2 linked regions of the Homo sapiens genome follow. The protein of the gene in region 1 purifies or fractionates together with the protein of each later gene. This does not show direct contact. Each region holds a gene or a part of one and is shown in the gene's direction. Other genes may lie near its edges. The genes, in order: ROBO4 and ROBO1.

Region 1 (3,825 bases):
CCAGTGCCCCACCTCAGGAAGTGACTCTAAAGCCTGGCAATGGCACTGTCTTTGTGAGCTGGGTCCCACCACCTGCTGAAAACCACAATGGCATCATCCGTGGCTACCAGGTACCCCCACTAGCTGTCATAGCCCTTCCTACTGCTGCCAGGACATCTCTTTTCTCTGGAGTTCTGCATACCCTTGCTCTGGGCACTGAGAAAGGTACCTGGGCAGAGAAGCAAAGGAAACCTGCTTTTGCTGAGCAAGGACCCACTGGCTTCCAGACCCTGCCAAGCACTTGACCTCCATGATCCCGTTTTACCTCACAGTCCACCCTGGGGTATTATCCCCAATTTACAGACATGGAAAGTGGGGCAAAGGCCACAGGAATAAGAAACAGAGTAGATCAAACCAGGCTGTGAGTCAGGGAGTGGGGCTCAAAGTTTGACTTCTAGAGCAGCAACATCAGCCTCACCCAGGACCTTGTTAGGAATACAAACCCTCAGATCCTTTCCCAGGCCTCATAAATCAGAAACTCAGAGATGGGCCTGGCAAACTGTACTATAGCAGGCCCCCCTGGTGACTTGGAAGCACGCTGTTGTTTGAGAATTGCTATGTTACATGTGTTTTAGCAGCTTGCTTGTGCCCTTCTACTGTTGATCTAGAGAGAGGTATCTCTCACTTGGTAGGGAGAATAGGAGGGGAATAGGAAATTGGGTGCATTCCCCAAGTGGATGGCAGGGCAGAATAACCACACCCCTGGAGTCTGATCTGCAGATAAAGGGCTTGGCTTCTGGGATGGTGCCTGGGGAAGCTGTTCACCTCTGCTTGTGCCTCAGGTCTGGAGCCTGGGCAACACATCACTGCCACCAGCCAACTGGACTGTAGTTGGTGAGCAGACCCAGCTGGAAATCGCCACCCATATGCCAGGCTCCTACTGCGTGCAAGTGGCTGCAGTCACTGGTGCTGGAGCTGGGGAGCCCAGTAGACCTGTCTGCCTCCTTTTAGGTGAGGGCAGTGCCCACAGACCCACCCTACCCTTCAGCCTGCATCCCGCCTTCCTCTCTCCCTGCTCCCGCCTCACACTTCCAGCTCTTCCCCCTTGCCTGCCAGGCCCTCAATGCCTCGACTCCCTCTCCCTCTGAGCTCTGCATCCCATACAGAGCAGGCCATGGAGCGAGCCACCCAAGAACCCAGTGAGCATGGTCCCTGGACCCTGGAGCAGCTGAGGGCTACCTTGAAGCGGCCTGAGGTCATTGCCACCTGCGGTGTTGCACTCTGGCTGCTGCTTCTGGGCACCGCCGTGTGTATCCACCGCCGGCGCCGAGCTAGGGTGCACCTGGGCCCAGGTGAGAGTCTGAGGGGGACCCACATGTATACAGGCCTCCTCAGCATCCAGCCAGAATGGTGCAGGGGCTTTGGATCTCTGACCAGGTGATCCAGCCTCTGGATTTAGCTTTCCTCCTGCCTTCTCCCAGGTCTGTACAGATATACCAGTGAGGATGCCATCCTAAAACACAGGTGAGAGGTGAAAGGGGAGGTCTGAAGTAAGGGAGGGTGGCAAGGGACAGTGGAGCTGCAACAGAGAAGAATGGAGTACTAGTCTACCTGCCAGGGAGTTTGGGACTGTCGTACATGAATCTCTCCTGTAACTCCAACTGATAGTTCATTTCTCTGTCATTAATATTCCTATCACACCACTTGACAGACTAGTAAACTGAAACTCATAAAACCTTCTAAACCCCCAATCCAGGACTCTTGTCACCCCACCTCTCCTGCTGCCTCACCCGCTAGGTGGAGAATAATCAGCATGAGACGACCACCTCAAATGTCTCATCTTATGCGTGCACCCATGGTCTACCAAGTAGTGCCTTTGCACTCAGTAATTCTCTCACTGAGCCATTGTGCCTACATCATAGTCCACCCGCAGCTCCAGCAGAGGGTGTTCAGTGCCTACATCATAGATTCTTCCTCACTGTTCTCAAAAACAGGATCTGCCCATGGGCCCTTCTGCTTCCGGTATATTCGGCTGCCAGAACAAGTCTGCAGTTCTGGGACATCATGCTGATAGAGAACACATCCTTCTTGCTCCCGTTGTCTGAGTTTTGTACTAAGTAACCGCCTCATCTCTCTGTCTGCCTTCTTGGCTCTTTATTTCGCTAGATCTCCTCTGGGAGGCTTCCCACTCCAGGTCTGCATCTATCCACAGAAGTTACTGAGCACCTACTATGTGCCAGCAAATCCAGGCCTAGAGCTGCCATTTCACTGTCAGGTCCTCAGCCCAGAGCAGGGGTCCAAGCTGGCTGGTGTTGTGTTTTGAGTTTTCTGAGCTCACTGGCTTCTTTCTTCCAGCTACCTCCTGGCTTTGTCTGCTCTGCCTTAAGCTTTCTGTGGCTTCCCTAGGATCTCCTGCTCTGTCCTTGAGGGAGATTCCTTCTGATCTTTGGTTCATTCTTTCCTTTGGAATAGCCTCCACCTGCCAGAATCTCTCAGTGTAGGCAGAGACAGGCATGAGGGGATATGAGTGCAATCCTGTATTGGCCACGCAGAAGCAGGTACAAGACACATGGAGGGGGTCAATGTGGAAAAACATAGGAGAAAGAAGATTCCACATTACCCTGACAGTAAGAAGGGGATGGAGAGAAGAGCAATGAAGCAGCAAGTAATAGCCTGCTATGTCCACAGGGAAAGACAAACCATTTGTTCTGGCTCGGGTATAGGGTGTGAGATGGGTCAGAGCAAAGGCTATAGTTAGGGAGCTGGAAGCCAGACCAAGGAAGGTCCTCTTAGCCATGCTAGGTACCTGGGCTCTATCATGGTAAATGAGGGGCCATTGAAGGTCTTACGCAGAGAAGCTCCTTGCTCAGATCCCTGTTCTTGAAGGATCACTCAGGCAGCCAGAGGCCAATATCCATGGAGCAAGCTCCTGCTCTGCCAGCTGAGTGATCTCACATTTCCTCATATAAACCCAGACCATCAGTCTTGAGTGTGGAAGGCCCTATTGCCATCATTTTACAGATGAGAAAACTGGGGCTTAGAGAGGATGTACTTACCCAAGTGCAACAGATGTACTTACCCAAGCTAAGCTGTGACAGATAGAGATTGTCAAACCAGATTTGTCTTCAGGTCTTCTTTTTACCTCAGCATACATAGCTGTCTGTCATTACTACCTCCCAGCTCTGGGTGACTCGGATTTCCCCTCATCCAGGAATAAGAAAGGGGTGCTGGGTTTAGGGGACCAGGTCAGAGATCTTAAGGAGTCTGTGAAAAGCTGAAAAGCAGTAGTAAGGATAAAGCCACCATCTCCTTGCCCTCTTCTGCTGCCTCTGAACAGGAAGTCTTGGCCAAAAAGGTTCTCACTTCTCCCTGTTTCTCCTGGCCTCACCCCCTCCCTCCACTGCCCCAGGATGGATCACAGTGACTCCCAGTGGTTGGCAGACACTTGGCGTTCCACCTCTGGCTCTCGGGACCTGAGCAGCAGCAGCAGCCTCAGCAGTCGGCTGGGGGCGGATGCCCGGGACCCACTAGACTGTCGTCGCTCCTGTGAGCATGCTCAGTGGGGGCAAGGGCCTAGCTGGGGGCAGTGATCTCAGGGATGGAAAGCAGGACATGCTCACCATAATTCCTCCTGTCATTTATGTCACAGTGCTCTCCTGGGACTCCCGAAGCCCCGGCGTGCCCCTGCTTCCAGACACCAGCACTTTTTATGGCTCCCTCATCGCTGAGCTGCCCTCCAGTACCCCAGCCAGGCCAAGTCCCCAGGTCCCAGCTGTCAGGCGCCTCCCACCCCAGCTGGCCCAGCTCTCCAGCCCCTGTTCCAGCTCAGACAGCCTCTGCAGCCGC
Region 2 (3,825 bases), on another chromosome or scaffold:
AAAATTACCAAAGATTTCTTACCAAACAACCCCTCCCCCCCCCAAAAAAAAACCCAATATTGCCAATATAGGAAATATTAAAATTATTGTATGGAATCTCTATGATGATAGAAGTAAAATAACCTGTGGAATTACGGAAAGGCGAGAGAGAAGTTGGATTTAAGTAAAGATGCTATGCACTATAAAGAACAAATCATAGAGCAGTCTGCATGTCTGCCCTTAAAGCGAATCCTGAGTGTCCACTGGACGTGGATGTGACGTATCCATGTGACCAAGTCTCTGTCCTCTAGAGGCCCATATTCTGAATGTCTAGACAGATAGATACTCATGTAATCATAAGTACAAGAAAAACTGGGTTGAGACCTATAGGAGAGAAAAAATGGCGATACCCATTTAATAGGTAGAGCTGTGTTGTCCAATATGGTAGCCATTGGCAACAGATGGCTATTTACATTGAATTTAATAAAATATAGTTTAAAACTCAGTCCCTCTTTTGCACTAGCTACATTTCTAGTGCTCAGTGGCCACGTGTGACTGGTGGCTGCTGTATCAGACAAAGTGGAGTAGACCATGTCCAATATCTCCAAAGTTCTGTTGGATAACACAAATATAGACAGATTGGCGAAACAAAATGAGAATGCAAAAACCACATGATCTTTATAGTATTTCTTAACCACTGTTAAACAAAACTAGAAATTAGAAATAAGAATCACAAAGTCCAGATGAATCAAATATTTCTGTTCCCTGACGGTTCATGGTTGAAATGCAGAATAGTTGAATTCAGTAGGATAGAGAAATTACACATTTTTCTTAAGATTATATTCACATTTACATCTTTAGTAACAAACATGTTAATTTATAATTTTTAAACATATCCAGTTAAAAACCAATGCTACAGGTGACTTGTTAATGTTGGTACCACTTTTGGACAACATGCATAAAATAATGACATTTTTACCATTGTAATTTAACTAATTTTTCTATTTAAAATCTATTTTAATTTAAAAATATGATTTCAGTTCTTCCTACCATTTTAATATTTTCAACTGCAGGCCATATATATATATATATATATATATATATATATATATAAAATGAATGTATATATTATGTATGTATATTCAGTTATTTAATGTCCAAATATTTCAATAGAGAGAAAACTGGAGTGGAAATGAGATATTAGATATTTAAGTATTATTTCAGGCTTATTTGATTCAATTACCCAGGTTACTATGATTCCTTTTGTTATTATTATTATTGTCATTTTATATTTCTTTGGTTGTCATTATGAAACCATGAGAAAATAATTATATAGCATGTTTTCCGGATAATGATTATCCAACAGGACTACAACAAGAACTAATAGAATTCTCCTTAGTACCATTTACTATCATTTTACCCCTGTTCCCATATCTTTTAAATGTAGGTATTTTATAAAATACCAAAATCTCAAGTTCTTTGATCTATGAATAGTTTTTTCCTTTGGATTTTTCATTTATGTGCTTTGTCTGTTGCTTCAGCAGCTAACCAGTAGCTTCAAATAATTCAGTAACCAAAGACTAGAAAATAAAAAGTTGACACATAAAGATATACATGTATATATTATTTTAGTGGAATTCCTATTAATGAGGTTATTAAATGAAAATTATTTTAAATTGGATGAATTGTTTACTTCAGCACTATCAGAAATTCAAATTTATTTAGTCTCTACAAATTCTGTGTACCCTCTTTTATTTTTTCAATTATTAATTTTCTTTAGAAAGCACATGTGGATATTTGGCCGTTTTTATTGATCTTATTTAAGCCCACTTGTACTTTACATAACGATTTTCTGATGACTCGCAAAGCTACGTAAAAAGAAATTTAAAAGGAATAACCACGCAGAATGATTTTTTCCTTTTCCTCTCCATTGCACATAGCTGATTGTATAGCAAATTATAACAACCAACTGGATAACAAACAAACAAATCTGATGCTCCCTGAGTCAACTGTTTATGGTGATGTGGACCTTAGTAACAAAATCAATGAGATGAAAACCTTCAATAGCCCAAATCTGAAGGATGGGCGTTTTGTCAATCCATCAGGGCAGCCTACTCCTTACGCCACCACTCAGCTCATCCAGTCAAACCTCAGCAACAACATGAACAATGGCAGCGGGGACTCTGGCGAGAAGCACTGGAAACCACTGGGACAGCAGAAACAAGAAGTGGCACCAGTTCAGTACAACATCGTGGAGCAAAACAAGCTGAACAAAGGTGAAGAGGCTTGCATGTATTCCCATCTGTTTCTGTATGATACTCTCAGCACCTCGACTAGATGTTGAAACTTGTCTGCGACTAGCAAGTAAAATCTTTTCTTCTGTCGCTGAGATTTTCTTATTTCTTTGGTTTCAAAATTTCCAGTGTCAAAGAGTTAATTAGCACAACAATAACCTTGGAAAATTTATTTTATAATAATATATAAGTATTTTCAAATGGTTTTGAGATTAATTTAAATTTAATAGCAGGTGAGGGATTGGGACGGACAATCTTTTATTCATGAGGCAGATGTACAACTGTCACAATACCTCGCATTTTCAATAAATAGACTATCCCATTCTTTCCACTAGAGGATGGAAGATAATTGCTTCTATGTGGTTATATAAACCAATGGCATTTTTATATCAACCTGAAATAAAATAATTAAATTAAACTTGAACTGGAGAAGTGGTTCAATTTGTTGTATGTCTCCCACCTCGTGTGGTTATTAAGACTGCTACAGTGTATAATTTTAGAACCTAAATTTCCTTGGTTGACCTGATTGAAGTCTGTCCGTATAGAACCTAAAATAAATTGAGTTTAGTATTAACTTGAAGCCGCAGAATAGTATTCTGTGGCCTGAAGGAAATGTTTCTGTATTGTAATGTGTATGAGTTGGAAAAGATAGGTGTTTGGTTTCTTTGTAGTCCTTTAGGCTACTGCTATAATATCATGATTTGCAAAGTTATACCTCTAGGAAAACCAGGATTGCTCTAATGTGAATAGATGGGGGCAATGCATCCCCACCTATTCCAGGTAAAGAATACACTGGAGATAATTGGAGACATAGACATTTTCTTTAGGTTTGGGTTGGGAACATTTTCTTTGAAAATGCGATTTATCACAGTTGAAGATGACAAAAATATAACTTAAAAATTTCATTTAAGTTAATATTATGTTTTAACTCGAGAATGAAGTCAGCTAGGCTTTTCTCAAGTTTAAGAAAGTACTTGATTGGTATAATAACCCAATTTAATAAATATGGATCGAGACTCCTGCATAAGTTCATAACAAAAACTGACAAAGATGAACAGGACAGTTTCTGTAATCATGGAGTTTGCAGTGGTGATTCAAACTATTGTCACATTATTCCTTCATAGTATATTGTTTTACTGTGGACTTCGGAAAGCCCTGAGAGCCTCCGCACAAATATTTCAGAACTCTGATTTATTGTTTATACTGCTTGTAAGCAGATTTGGTATGTCAGACCATAATAAAGAACCTGGAATGCAACTAGACGACAGATTATTACTGACTACATTCCAGTGGCAAGCTTATCATTTGGATTTTCACCTTTGCCTAAGTAAGCAGAAGCATTTCTGGGGCAAATTAAGATATTTGTTTTTTTTAATCATAGATATATTTTTTATTAGATATAACCTTGCTGACAGGTTTCAGTTTTATTTTTATGTATTGTGATTTATTTTTTATGATTTGCAGACATTTTTGTGATTCTTATTAAAATCATATTGATATTATATTATTAAAGTTATTTATAGTTTATATATATTTGGAGTATAAGCCTTTT

What was found.
Region 2: the proteins of ROBO4 (region 1) and ROBO1 purify together in Homo sapiens (co-immunoprecipitation; one study listed by IntAct). This does not show direct contact.

The regions. Positions count from the first base shown.
Region 1 is NC_000011.10:124,891,366-124,895,190, reverse strand, and holds part of ROBO4 (roundabout homolog 4 isoform 1 precursor), read left to right. Parts: coding exon 1-110; intron 111-821; coding exon 822-990; intron 991-1,145; coding exon 1,146-1,331; intron 1,332-1,460; coding exon 1,461-1,503; intron 1,504-3,058; exon of another isoform or gene 3,059-3,388; coding exon 3,389-3,525; intron 3,526-3,628; coding exon 3,629-3,825.
Region 2 is NC_000003.12:78,634,203-78,638,027, reverse strand, and holds part of ROBO1 (roundabout homolog 1 isoform a precursor), read left to right. Parts: intron 1-1,919; coding exon 1,920-2,255; intron 2,256-3,825. UniProt on the Homo sapiens protein: Receptor for SLIT1 and SLIT2 that mediates cellular responses to molecular guidance cues in cellular migration, including axonal navigation at the ventral midline of the neural tube and projection of axons to different regions during neuronal development.